Linked DNA regions of Homo sapiens. The protein of the gene in region 2 purifies or fractionates together with the protein of the main gene of each other region. This does not show direct contact. Each region holds a gene or a part of one and is shown on either strand. Other genes may lie near its edges. The genes, in order: MOV10, TIAL1, SULF2 and MIX23.

Region 1 (3,569 bases), on a different chromosome or scaffold from region 2:
AAAATATGAAAAATAGCTGGGCACTTGAGGCTGCAGTGCGATTGTGCCACTGCACTCCATCCTGGGTGACAGAGTGAGACTCTGTCTCAAAAAAAAGGGTGGGGATTGGGGAAGTGGGAAGTTAGGGTAAATGTGGCTGTGGAGCACTGTTGTACGGGTAGGGCACTGCATGAATCTTGGAGTCACCATTCACATTTCAGTCATCATAGACTTGCCCTGCCCCAGCCTGGGTACGGCTGAGTCTCAGGAACCTGCCTCCCACACTGCGCTTATCTGCATCTCAGGTGGTGAAGCACTTGCCCAAAGCCCACATCTTGGCCTGCGCTCCATCCAACTCAGGGGCTGACCTACTCTGTCAAAGGCTCCGGGTCCACCTTCCTAGCTCCATCTACCGCCTCCTGGCCCCCAGCAGGGACATCCGCATGGTACCTGAGGACATCAAGGTACTAGGGAAGTGCAGAGGGCCAAAGAATGGCAAATGCCGGGGAGGCTCTCAGGGCAGACACTGAGGCGAGGAAGCTAGGAGACCTGGATTCTGATACTTGCTATGTGACCTTGGGTTGGACAGGACCCCTCCCTGGGCCTCAGTTTGTCTGTAAGTGAGGGGGGTGGATAAAACATTTGGGGGGCTGGGTGCAGTGGCTTACACTTGTAATCCCAACACTTTGAGGGGCGAGGCAGATGGATTACCTGAGGTCTGGAGTTTGAGACCAGCCTGGCCAACATGGCAAAATCCCGTCTCTACTAAAAATACAAAAAAATCAGCTGAGTATGGTGGCGCGTGCCTGTAGCCCCAGCTACTCGGGAGGCTGAGGCACGAGAATTGCTTGAACCCAGGCGGCGGAGGTTGCAGTGGGCCAAGATCACACCATGGCACTCCAGCCTGGGGGACAGCGAGACTCCGTCTCAATTAAAAAAAATAAAAATAATTGTTTGAGGGGGGGTACCCACAGCCAGAATCACGGTGGGAATGAGTGGAGCCAAGCTGATTCCTCTGGTCCCTTCACAATCCACAGCCCTGCTGCAACTGGGACGCAAAGAAGGGGGAGTATGTATTTCCCGCCAAGAAGAAGCTGCAGGAATACCGGGTCTTAATTACCACCCTCATCACTGCCGGCAGGTGGGGAGTGTGTGTGGGTGTGTCTCTGAATCGTAAGTGTAATTAAAGGGGTACCGGGCTGGGGAAATGGGGAAGAATGGTTTCCGGAGTGGGGTGGTGGGTGCTGAGAAGCCAGCCTGGGAAAGCATTCAGGTTTGGTAGTTGGGTGCCTGGATATGACCCCTGCCTGGCCTGACACCTCCCAGGTTGGTCTCGGCCCAGTTTCCCATTGATCACTTCACACACATCTTCATCGATGAGGCTGGCCACTGCATGGAGCCTGAGAGTCTGGTAGCTATAGCAGGTGAGGGACTCAGGTGGGGCTGCAGGTATACACCCTGTGTGGGTCAGAGAGGTTGCACCACTTACCTTTCTTCCCACACCTCTTCTGCTTCCCAGGGCTGATGGAAGTAAAGGAAACAGGTGATCCAGGAGGGCAGCTGGTGCTGGCAGGAGACCCTCGGCAGCTGGGGCCTGTGCTGCGTTCCCCACTGACCCAGAAGCATGGACTGGGATACTCACTGCTGGAGCGGCTGCTCACCTACAACTCCCTGTACAAGAAGGGCCCTGATGGCTATGACCCCCAGTTCATAACCAAGCTGCTCCGCAACTACAGGTATTCCCATGCCCTTGCCTCCCCTGCCATATCCTATGCTTTCACATCCTGCATGCAGACCCCACTGGAGAGTCTGGCTTGCTGTCAGTCCTGTTGCTCAGAGGTTGTGTGATGCAGAAAGACTAAACTGGAAGGCAGGAGGTTTTTCTAGCCCCAGCACTGCTGCTTGTTGTCTGCGTGACTTAGCCAGTGGTTTCACACTACACCAGTCAGCTTATCTGCATCTTAGGGGGTGGTCAGTGGTTCCTAGAGGCTAGGGTGTGTCTGGTACCAGTCCCAGATGAAGTTTTCAGGCAATCCAAGGAGAGATAAGAAAAATAGGGAGGAGGTCGGGCACAGTGGCTCATGGCTGTAATCCCAGCACTTTGGGAGGCCAAGGTAGGTCAGGCTCCCACCCCCGATCACTTGAGGTCAGGAGTTTGAGACCAGCCTGTCCAACATGGTGAAACCCCATCTCTACTAAAAATACAAAAATTAGCCAGGCATAGTGACAGGCACCTGTAATTCCAGTTACTTGGGAGGCTGAGGCAGGATAATCGCTTGTACCCGGGAGGCAGAGGTTGCAGTGAGCTGAGATCGCGCTACTGCAGTCTAGCCTGGGTGACAGAGCGAGACTCCATCTCAAAAAAAGAAAGAAAAATAGGGAAGATACAGTTTTTTCATAAACCTATTGTTATTCAAATTAAAGAGCTGTATACTTTTAGTGAATGAGTTCAGCCATCTAAAATGCTTAGATAAGTTTTATGCTGTCACTAAGAGCTCAATAAATGTTAGTTATTGTGTCATCACTGCTTATATTTTTTGATTTAACACATGGTCTCATCAAATAACGTGATAGTCAAGGAGAATTTGGTTTCGTACTGTCCTTGGTAAATTTGAAACCTGAAAATGGGCCCCTAATTATTTAGTTTTAAATGTCATGGGTCTGTGGAGTCCCTGGACTAGATGCTCTCTGGAACTATATTTGGTTCTGCTTTCTGTGGTTTACAGTGCCTGGCAGCAGATATTATGGAGGAGTGTCCTGCTATCCAGGGAGCCAGCGGGGTAGCAGGCTATTGTGTGTGGGCCCAGAGTGGGTAGAGCGGAGCCCCTGTAGGGCAGAGGGAATCTGACCCTTGGTCTTGCTTTTCCTCCTCCGGCCTCCCAGGTCTCATCCCACCATCCTGGACATTCCTAACCAGCTCTATTATGAAGGGGAGCTGCAGGCCTGTGCTGATGTCGTGGATCGAGAACGCTTCTGCCGCTGGGCGGGCCTACCTCGACAGGTGAGGCTGAGCAGGGCAGGCCCCACCCCTGTACCCTGACTTCCCTCCCACTGAAGGTGCAGCCCCTCCCTTTGTCACCTTGGCCTAGGATCTCTTACTCTCTGGAAGGGTTTGGGAAGGGAGGGAATAGAGGGAGGGTGGTCTGGCTGACGGTTTCCCCCGACCCCATGTCCAGGGCTTTCCCATCATCTTTCACGGCGTAATGGGCAAAGATGAGCGTGAAGGCAACAGCCCATCCTTCTTCAACCCTGAAGAGGCTGCCACAGTGACTTCCTACCTGAAGCTGCTCCTGGCCCCCTCCTCCAAGAAGGGCAAAGCTCGCCTGAGCCCTCGAAGTGTGGGCGTCATCTCCCCGTACCGGAAACAGGTCAGGTCCTCAGTTACCAGCAAGGGTGGGGCCCCTCCCCCAGATGGTACCTCCTTAATATCCAGACCACTAGGCAGAGGCTCCAGGAGCTTAGGCCTCTGCTGGCTCCGTATCTCAGAAGAGCACCAAGGTCAGCTGCCGCCTCCCTTTGTTCCCCAGCTCCCTGGCCTCCTGCCAGGCTCCCTCTTGCATTAGGTTAATGGCACGAGAGAAAGGCACCTG
Region 2 (3,569 bases):
TCTCTTCATGGCTTACATCCCTATTTGCTTGGGAAACTCATTTGGCTGTCTCTCCATTATATCTCCAGTACCTTGTATAGTGCCTAGTGCAAAGGAAATTTTTGATCGATGAAAGCACAAATAAATAATTAAAGGCAGGAAGGAAAAATATAATACACCAGAACAAAATGATGATTGTCATTACTTGGGAAAGACAATCAAAAGGCCAATGCACTTTAAAGGTTTTTAACAGTTCTCCGTTTCAGGATAAAACAAACTCTTTAGCACAGTTTCTAGCCCTTTCCATAAACTCCTGCCATCTCTTACGACTAATTCCATTTTAACTACAACCATGCTACGGGTTCTATTTTTCCCTCTCTGTCTCAAGCACTCCTGCTCTCCCTACCAACCTGGATCAAAGTTCCCTTTATTTGGAATCCCTTCTTCCCTCAATTCCTTTCTAGCCAGTATGTACTACTATCCTTTCAAGGTTTCCGCCTAGGCAGTGAGTCCTCCAAGAAGCCGCTCACTGACCTAAGGCTGCACTGGATACACATTTGCTCCCACAGCACTTTAAGTTGTCTGCTTCTAGAGCATTTATTATCCTACTTCCTAAGTGCCTGCTAACTCCTTTGTCTCCCTACTAAACTGTAAAATTCTCTGGGCCAAGGAACTATCTTTATTCACCAGTGTATCTCTAGCACTTACTGCAGTATCTAGTACATAGGAAATAGTCCAAAAAAAAAAAAGAAAGCTGATCAATGAACAAAAACACAAGGAAGAAAAGCCTAAAACATGACTAATTGGGTGCTGCTACAGTCTTAGCAGGAAAGTATAAAAAGGTAAGTATTTGCTACAGACACACGAGACGAACGGTGCTGCACACTACACACATAATAACTTCGTGTTCTCGCACATGAACACATGCTGTCTAAATCGTTAACATTCTTATTGGAATTGTATGAAATACTTTCCAATTTTTCACCATTCTGAAATGAGCTCTAATAATGTTCTGAAAGCAGAATCACTTCAAGATAACCACACCATGAAGAATGACCGTTTGAGCTTAACAGCACGGAAACTTTGCCCTCTTAAATAAAACTCCATTCTAAGCCTAGTTTGTCAGCCAAATCAAAGTAATAAGTCAACACAACACAAATCTCTCCACCAGAATAACTTGAGGCTTACAATGAAATTTTAAAATCATGCTAATCAACCCATCATGCTAATTGTCAGCACATGGAACTGGGAAGATCTTACCTCTGTTATCATTTTACAGCTTTTACAGGGTCCAATCTGACTGAACAACTGAAGTATAAGGACTTCTGTCACATCTCTGGAAAGGTTACCTACGTATCTGCACAAGAAAAAAATACGTTATCAGCAATTTTTCCTTTAGCTCTGGCTCTAATGTGTTATCATCTAATTCATCACCTTTTCTTTCTTTCTTTCTTTCTTTCTTTTTTTTTTAGATGGAGTTTTGCTCTTGTTGCCCAGGCTGGAGTGCAATGGCATGATCTCAGCTCACTGCAACTTCCGCCTCCCAGATTCAAACGATTTTCCTGTCTCAGCCTCCCAAGTAGCTGGGATTACAGGCGCATGCCACCATGCCTGGCTAATTTTTGTATTCTTAGTAGAGACAGGGTTTCATCGTATTGGTCAGGCTGGTCTTGAACTCCTGACCTCAGGTGATCTGTCCGCCTTGGCCTCCCAAAGTGCTGGAATTACAAGCGTGAGCCACTGCGCCCGGCCACCTTTTATTTCATTTTAACTTCCTCTGTTTTCAACAAAATTTCTCCAATTAAACCTGATCCTATGAAAGTAAGATTAACCCTTATTTAGGAAAGCAACAATTGTTCTTAGGCCACTAAAATACCACTCTGAAAGACATTTAAAGAACAAATCAATGTGATCTTGTATACCCCAATGGCATTATTATTCTGTACCCTGGATATCATTTTCTCATCTTATTCTAATTGTTAAAATTTTAAACTGGTCTCAAGATAACTACAATTTCTAATTAAAAATAATTTATAACACACACACACATACAACAAATACTAATTCATTAAAACATCTGATTGTAATAGGATATTAAACATAAAGTGAGTTTATCTTAGATTCCCAACCAAAGCAATTACATGAACAAAGAACAGAATTAAAGTTATAGTAAAACATACAGAGGGTGGAGGGTTTTTGTTGTTTTGTTTTTGGCTGAGTAAGGTTGTTTGCAATGATGTCTTCACTGTTTCATTTTAGGAGAGCAGGGTAAAATATAAAATTTCCTAGTCTAAAATGCATCAGAATCAACAAAATATATATGTATTTTTTTGAGATGGAGTCTCACTCTGTCACCCAGGCTGGAGTGCAGTGGCATGATCTCAGCTCACTGCAACCTCCGCCTCCCAGGTTCAAGCGATTCTCCTGCCTCAGCCTCCCAGGTAGCTGGGACTACAGGCGTGCACCACCACGCCCGGCTAATTTTTGTATTTTTAGTAGAGACGGGGTTTCACCATGTTGGCCTGGCTGGTCTCAAACTCCTAACCTCAAGTGATCCACCTGCCTGAGTCTCCCAAAGTGCTGGGATTACAGGAGTGAGCCACCATGCCCAGCCAACAAAATATATCTTAATGTAGATAAAAAAGCTAATACAAAGATTTCTTAAGAAATTCAGAGAAAAACTAAGACAAATCCAGGCATACTTTTGACTATGGACACTTAAAAATTTGGGTTTTTTTTCCTAATTACAATTGAATGTGTTTTGTGTAAAAGATTTTAAATACAGGAAAGTTTAAAAAAGAAAAGAAAAAAATGCTACTTCATCACACAGAGAGGACCACCTTGGTTTATGTCTTGTACTATGGATTTATCTTAATTTATCTAAATAAATTGCCAAACACTAAAGTCTTTCTGGTATTCTACACATAATTCCTCAAATTTGCATCTGTTATGAACAACCTCATAAACCAAACAATATCTGTAAAATTTAACAAAGTTCATTCTGGAAAGTAGATTTCTTTTTCTACTTGTAATATATTACATCTGGAAACTGAGTATTAAGACCAAAATAAGACTTGCAACATAGCTGCCACATTAAATACACAACATGCTTTAAGATGGAATACTCAAAGGGAAAAATAGACTGAGAAAGCTTAGGTTAAGTAAAAAACTTAAAAGATCCAATTAAGAATTAGTAGCGATTTTCCAGTTAAGAATTTTATTGCAATGAGTACTAATAATCTTAGTGTACCTGCTCTAAAATTGAAACACACATCCAATATTACCTAACTAGAGGACTAAACAAGTGACAAACTGTTTTACGTCCACTATGCCACCTTTTCCACGTAATTAAGGAGCTGATCCATCAGCAGGCCAATGTAGTGACATACTTTTTCCAGCAGGACTAAAAGGTTATTGGGTTATGAGCCAGCGATAGGCTGCTTGCCCCTTCTTAACTCATAGGGGTTTGTGAGCCTGTATCTCTGAAATGATTTCTTTTTGTACAGAGTAGACCTATCTGTAAGAAAAATGAACAAGTGACCAGGCATGGTGGCTCACGCCTGTAATCCCAGCACTTTGGGAGGCTATGG
Region 3 (3,569 bases), on a different chromosome or scaffold from region 2:
ATGCTGATCTGCAGGTGAGGGGGCCCTCCCTGAAACCTGCTTTCTCTGGGCCTCCTTGGAATGGGCCTTGGTGGAGATCTACAGACAGCCCTGGCCCAGCCGGATTGAAGGCACTGTCTAATTGGGAGGGCATTAAGATCGTTATAATTAATTGGCATCCCGATAAATGGCATGGTTGCCTAATTGGGGTGGTTGCTAGGGAACGAGGCCTCACTTGGAGCCTAAAGGGGAAGAAGCGCTGGGCTGGCCACAGTTGGGTGTCAGGGTACAGATCCAGCAGTGAATGGACCGGAAGGGAGAGCAGTCCATCCGTATCTGCTGGTGTTTACTGAGCAGCTGCTGTGTGCAAGTTGCAAATGGAGTATCAGTTAGGGGTACTTGCCTAGAAGAACTGTAAAGTAATCAGGTTCCTTTCTCTTGCAAGCAACGGAAAAAGAGAAGAAAAAAACTCAAGCCAGCTTAAGGAGAAAAGAAGTGGACTTACTGGTTTTCATAACCAAAAGTCTTAAGGTGACTAACTCTAGCTTCAGACACAGCTGGACCCACAGCTCAGATTTTGTAATGAGAATCCATTCCTATCCACCGCTCCTCTGCCTTCCATGAGGCTGATGTCTCTCCAGCTCTGGGGCGGGCAGTCCCTGGCAGCTGTGGGCACCGTGGCTAGGAGAGCCAGACTGCCTGGCTCCCTGCCCAGCAGTGGGATCTGGGGCATGCTACTTAACCTTTCTGTGCCTTGATGTTCACATCCAACAAATGATGATGATCATAGCACCTGTCTCCTGCTTGTGGTAAGCATGAAATGAGATGATCAATGTCAAGTGCTTAGCAGGGCGTCTGACCCAGGTGAGCCTTCAGTAGGCATTGACTGTTACCATAACTTAGGTGTCAGGACAGATGTCATGGAGCAGAGGGGTCTCATCCCCTCTGGTTTAAGCCCAAAAGGAAAGAACAAGCCTCTGATCTGGCAATGCACACCTGAGCCCCATGGTTCCCTCTGATTGGACTGTTTTTTGTCCAAACCAGTCACTGGCTAAGGAAATGAGTTGCCAACAATTGGCTTAAGCCAGGCTCACAGGCCTCTCCCTGGAGCTGGATGGAGGCTGACTGCTGAGACCCCAAAGCCTGGAATAAAACAGCACGGGGAGTCCCCAGTGAAAGGGAAGCCCGGTTGCTGGAGAGGCAGATGGCCAGTGCCTGCGATGATGGGCCACTAATGTGAGCAATGCTGGCCAGATGGACCCATCTTCATTTTGGCCAAGGTGGAGACTGGGGAAACACGCTGCCTGGGCAATGCCTCTCCCTTCCACCAGGGCCAGGAGGCATCAAAGGCCTGACTTTTCTGCCTTACTGTCTGAAGGATGGGGCCTGGCCTTGATCCTGTGCTTTCGGGGGGCCAGGGGCAGTGTTTGTCTAACCTCCCACCATGAGAATCATCTGGCTGTATTTGTTTAAAAAGGCAAAGACCAGATCCTGTTGAATCAAACTTCTAGGGAGGGTCCTGGATGCTGGGGGGCATGACCAATATGTCATGTGTATATTCTATATCAGCAGGAGGGTTTGGCGAAGAGAGCTCTGGAGCGTGGGCCTCTTTGTCTTCCTGCCTAATGCAGGGGCTGTCAGAAGGCGGGGAAAATGCTCTAGGCCTGGCGTGCTGGCTCATGCCTATAATCCCAGCACTTTGAGAGGCCGAGGTGGGAGGATCCCTTGAGGTCAGGAGTTTGAGACCAGCCTGGCCAACATGGCAAAACCCTCTCTCTACTAAAAATACAAAAATTAGCCAGGTGTGATGGTGCTTGCCTGTAATTCCAGCTACACAGGAGGCTGAGGCACCAGAATCGCTTGAACCCAGGAGTCGGAGGTTGCAGTGAGCTGAGATCGCACTACTGCACTCCAGCCTGGGCAACAAAGTGAGACTCAGTCTCAAAAAAAAATTTAAAAGAAAAATGACTGCATGATGTGATGGGGTGGGAGGCAACTTTAGGCAGGCTGTCAGGGAGGCCTCTGTGAGGATGTGACCTTTGAACTGTGACCTAGATTTTAGGAAGGAGTCCGCCTTGGAAAGATCTGGGGGAAGAGCATGCCAGGTAGAAGGAACAGCTAGTGCAAAGGCCCAGAGGCGGTGGGAGGGGCCTGTCCAAGACACCTGCCCCAAACACAAATAGAAGTCAAGTGGGGTAGGCCAGGCGTGGTGGCTCACGCCTGAAATCTCAGCACTTTGGGAGGCTGAGGCAGTTAGATCACTGGAGGTCAGGAGTTCAAGACCAGCCTGACCAACACGGTGAAACCTCATCTCTGCTAAAAATACAAACATTAGCCAGGTGTGGTGGCACGTGCCTGTAGTCCCAGCTATTTGGGAGGCTGAGACAGGAGAATCACTTGAACCCGGGAGGCAGGGGTTGCTGTGAGCCGGGATCACACTTCTGCATTCCAGCCTGGGCAACAGAGTCAGACTCTGTCTCAAAAAAAAAAAAAAAAAAAGTCAACTAGGGTAGAGGGTCAGGAGTAAGTGGGGGAGGGCACGTCAGAGATGAGAAATACAGGCCATGCTAAGAAATTTTAGACTTTATTTTAAATAAAATGGATAACTGTCTGGACGCGGTGGCTTATGCCTGTAATCGCAACACTTTGGGAGGCCAAGGCGGGTGGATCACCTGAGGTCAGGAGTTCAAGACTAGCCTGGCCAACATGGTGAAACCCCATCTCTACTAAAAATACAAAAATTAGCCAGGCACGGTGGCGCACACCTGTAATCCCAGTTACTCGGGAGGCTGCAGCAGGAGAATCGTTTGAACCCAGGAGGTGGAGGTTGCAGTGAGCTGAGATTGTGCCATTGCACTCTAGCCTGAGTGACAGAGCAAGACTCCATCTCAAAAATAAATTAAAAAATAAAATGGAGAACCATTGGAGGGTTTTAAGTCAGAGAATGATATGATTTGTGTTTCAAGAAGATCCTGCTGGCTCCTGTGAGAGGCGTGCTGTGCAGATGGAAGTGGTATCACCGGGACTGTTAGGCAACAGAGAGGGCCCGAGAGTGGCTTGGACCGTGGTGGTATCAATGGAGATGGAGTGAAATGGGGATTGGAGATGTATTTTGGAGGTAGGGCCCACAGGACTTCCTAGTGGATTGGATTACAGAGTGAGGGAAAGGGCTTTGATTCTCAACCGAGGGTGATTTTGACACCCAGAAAACATTTTAACACTATCCGGAGACAGTATAGGTTGTCCCAACTGGGGAAGGGTTGCTACTGGCATCTAGAGGGTAGAGGCCAGGGATGCTGCTTAACCTGCAATGTACGGGATGACCCCACAGTGAAAAATGATTCAGCCCAAATATTCATGATGTATCCTGCCAAGGAGTCAAAGGTGACTAGGCAGCCTGGTGCGTGGTGATTGCTAAATAGGGAAGATAGGAGAGAAGGTTTTGGGGAGGAGGAGTGATCTGGAATTCCGACGTGGAAATGTTGGGTTTGAGATGAACCCCACCTGGATGTCTGAAAGCTCAGTGGGTGGTGAACGTGGATGTCTGCAGCCGGTCGGGGCTGGCAACCTAAGTTTGGGAGTTATCGGCA
Region 4 (3,569 bases), on a different chromosome or scaffold from region 2:
CATTACTTCTGGGTACCATCAGGCAAAGGGAGAGGAGAGGAAAGGTTAAGGGAGTTCCATATCATTCTTTGGAGTACAGTGTATTTTAGTTATATAATGGCCCCTTTCCTACTCCTCACCCCTATGTACCCTAAAAAATATGTAGAATTATAAAATAACTTTACCTGAGAATGAATCTTAGGAATAGACTATAGTATAATTGTAGGGGCAACAGAAAGTTTTCTCTACCCCTTCCCACTACTAAATATAGGCACTCCTTCAATACCTAAATTGCCTTCCAAGAGGATGAGATTTTTACCCCACCAATTACAGAGAAGACATAAAATGCATTCCAAGAAAAACGCCTGCATAATTTCAGAGTCAGCCTACAATGAGAGGTTCATGATATATCAGATCTCTTCTTGTTTTGAGGAGGATGAAAGATAGAAGAAGCTGGGAGTACTACAGAATTTATAAAGTTATCTTTGGCTGTGATTTAATGTTTAGAAGCTCATGAGGGTTCTACACAAGATGCAGCCTTCAGAGAACCATTGAACTGTGTGTATTTCTGTGTTATTTCTGTGGACAGGTGTTGCAGTTTATTGTGTATAATGTCTGTTCTGTTCAGGGGTGTCTTCTATGTATTTTCTTGGTGAATTTCTGGACAGGAGTGTATGCCATTGGGGCTAAGCCTCCGGTAGGTAGTCAGTAATTCCTTATGGATGATCCACATAATTCAATGGCAGCATTTTTGTGCCTTCATTCACCTTCGTTTGCTCACAATGTGTGAGGGCAGCCCGAACTTTTGCCTAGAACCTCTTGGAGTTGCCTTAACAGCTTTGGCACTTTTTTCCCTGTGAAGAAATGTGAGCCTGGTGAGACGGTTTACAGTTCTTTTCCTTCTCCCTTTTCAATTTTGAAAGAAATCACTTCCTGTCTCATTACACCACAAAAACACTGAGGGGCTACTATGTTGGACAGAACATTCACTGTTCTCAACAGGTTCCTATAAATAAAATTCGAATCTCCTTCTTTTCATAGCTGAAATGATTGACTAAATGGCATGCCTCTACTACTTCATCACCCACACTTTATTTCGCTACAATGTTTCCTTCCCCAATCATTTTACCTCCCTTTTTTTCTTTCTCTTTAGCTTTTCTGGTATCTCTTCTGTGACATTTAAGAATGGCATACAGTTTTCAGCAATTCCTGAACAAGTACATTATCAGTTTAGGGGTTGTCATTATATTTTCTAGAATATAGCACTGTCCAGTAGGACTTTCTGTGATGGTGGGAATGTTTTGCATTTATGCTATCTCCATATGATAGCCACTAGCAACAGGTGGCTCTTGAATACTTGAAATGTGACTAGTGCAATTAAGGAACTAAATTTTAAATTGCATTTAATTTTAATTTAAATAATCTCACATGGCTAATGTCTGCCATGTTAAAGGCAAGCTCTAGATCATATATTGATAATTCTCTAGTACACACAGAAAAATTGATACAGAGTCATGCTCCACATAATGATGTTTCAGTCAGTGACTGACTACATATACAACGGTGGTCCCATGAGATTATAACACCATATTTTTACTGCACCTTTTCCATATGTAGATATATTTAGATACACAAGTATCACTGTGTTACAGTTGCCCACAGCATTCAGTACAGTAACCTGCTGTATAGGTTTGTAGCCTAAAAGCAATCATCTATACTATATAGCCTAAGTGTGTAAGTAGGCCATACCATCTAGGTTTGTGTAAGTACACTCTATGATGTTCACACAACAGAATCACCCAATGACACATTTCTCAGAATGTTTCCTTGTCATTAAGCACTACATGACTATTTGATAATCCATAGGTTCCACTGGTAATACAATAAAATTGATGGACTCATTACATAGTTAATGTGGATAGATTCCCATTGCTATGTAAGGAATTTAGTAGTATGTCCAAATTGTTTTATTGGAGATGAATCGGGCTAAAGTGTTCAAACTCAAAACTGGTTAAAGTTCAGAGTCAACACAAACCCCAGGAAATGTCAAACGATGTAATCTTTCACGTGGATTGCTGCAGTCGTCTAACTGATCTTTTGACACCTACTCTAGTTCCTCTGCAGTCCACTTTAATCTAAGCAGTCATTTTAGAACACAGATCTGATCATGTAACCTTAATCACAACAGAAAACACATGTTTGGTTCCCTGTGGGTCTCAGAAAAGACTAAAATCCTATCATATGACCTCTAATAATGGACCTCATGTTACACCATGTTTTATCTTTCTCTGTGTACTTAAGCCACATTACCTTTTCAGTCCATTAAACACTCTATTTATATGGCTCTCTTTAAGGTCACCCTTGATTTCCATCCTGCTAAGTTTAAAAGTTTAATTTCTGTTCATATAATCATTTATTCATTTAAAATTTTTTTGAGACATAGTCACCAAGGCTGGAGGGCAGTGGCACATCATAGGTAACCGTAACCTTGAACTCCTGGGCTCAAGTGATCCTTCTGCCCCAGCATCCCAAGTAGCTAGGACTGTAGGCACATGCCACCATGCTTGGCTAAATTTTTTACTTTTGTTGAGACAGAGTCTTACTGTGTTGCCCAGGCTGGTCTTGAACTCCTAGCCGTAAGCAGTCCTCCCGCCTGAATCTGCCAAAGAGCTGGGATTACAGATGTGAGCTACCACACCTGGCCCCATATAATTCTTGAGTTAGTAACATTCAACACAAATGACCAATCCCTCCGTTAAACCTTTCTTCTGACTTCCGTGACATCACAGAATTTTTCCTTTACTTTTAGATGTAAGAATTCCTTAATCATTGGCCTCCTTCGCTTTCTACAGTCTCCTCCAGTGATCTCTTCTAGTTTCATGGTTTTAAAGAACATCAGTTTATTAATATAACTCCACCCCGATCAGTGTCAGACTGGCATACTCTACTTTCTATTCCACTCTTCTACTCAGATATCTAATAGGCATCTCAAACGTTAACAAGTCCAAAACAGAGCTTTGTTTTTTGTTTTTTGTTTTTTCTAATTTAAAAAATTTTAGATTTGGGGGTACATATACAGGTTTCTTTTCGGAGATGGAGTCTCGCTTTGTCACCCAGGCTGGAGTACAGTGGCGTGATCTCAGCCCACTGCAACCTCTGCGTGCTGGGTTCAAGCAATTCTCCTGCCTTAGCCTCCTAAGTAGCTGAGACTACAGGTGTGCGCCACCATGCGCGGCTAATTTTTTGTATTTTTGGTAAAGACGGGGTTTTGCCATGGCCAAACTGGTCTCAAACTCCTGACCTCGTGATCCACCCACCTCAGCCTCCCAAAGTGCTGGGATTACAGGTGTGAGCCACTGCACCTGCTTGATAGCCTTCTAATTTACCCATCACACAAATTATGAACATAGTACCCAACAGGTAATTTTTCACCCCCCACCTTCCTCCTTACCCTTGCCCTTTGGAGTCCCCAATGTCTATTCTTTCCATCTTTATGTCTATATGTACCCATTGTTTAGCTACCATTTATAAGCAAGCACATTTGGTATTTGATTTTCTGTTTTGAGTTATTTCACTTAATGGCCTCCAGC

What was found.
Region 1: the proteins of TIAL1 (region 2) and MOV10 purify together in Homo sapiens (affinity purification with western blotting; one study listed by BioGRID and IntAct). This does not show direct contact.
Region 3: the proteins of TIAL1 (region 2) and SULF2 purify together in Homo sapiens (co-immunoprecipitation; one large-scale study listed by IntAct). This does not show direct contact.
Region 4: the proteins of TIAL1 (region 2) and MIX23 fractionate together in Homo sapiens (co-fractionation; one large-scale study listed by BioGRID). This does not show direct contact.

Annotation. Positions count from the first base shown.
Region 1 is NC_000001.11:112,695,132-112,698,700, forward strand, and holds part of MOV10 (helicase MOV-10), read left to right. Parts: intron 1-284; coding exon 285-443; intron 444-1,016; coding exon 1,017-1,120; intron 1,121-1,305; coding exon 1,306-1,403; intron 1,404-1,498; coding exon 1,499-1,715; intron 1,716-2,862; coding exon 2,863-2,980; intron 2,981-3,155; coding exon 3,156-3,347; intron 3,348-3,506; coding exon of another isoform or gene 3,507-3,542; exon of another isoform or gene 3,543-3,569.
Region 2 is NC_000010.11:119,586,913-119,590,481, forward strand, and holds part of TIAL1 (nucleolysin TIAR), read right to left. Parts: intron 1,337-3,569; coding exon 1,240-1,336; intron 1-1,239. UniProt on the Homo sapiens protein: RNA-binding protein involved in alternative pre-RNA splicing and in cytoplasmic stress granules formation. Shows a preference for uridine-rich RNAs.
Region 3 is NC_000020.11:47,778,925-47,782,493, reverse strand, and holds part of SULF2 (extracellular sulfatase Sulf-2 isoform a precursor), read left to right. Parts: intron 1-2,839; exon of another isoform or gene 2,840-3,569. UniProt on the Homo sapiens protein: Exhibits arylsulfatase activity and highly specific endoglucosamine-6-sulfatase activity. It can remove sulfate from the C-6 position of glucosamine within specific subregions of intact heparin.
Region 4 is NC_000003.12:122,376,681-122,380,249, reverse strand, and holds part of MIX23 (protein MIX23), read left to right. Parts: intron 1-3,569.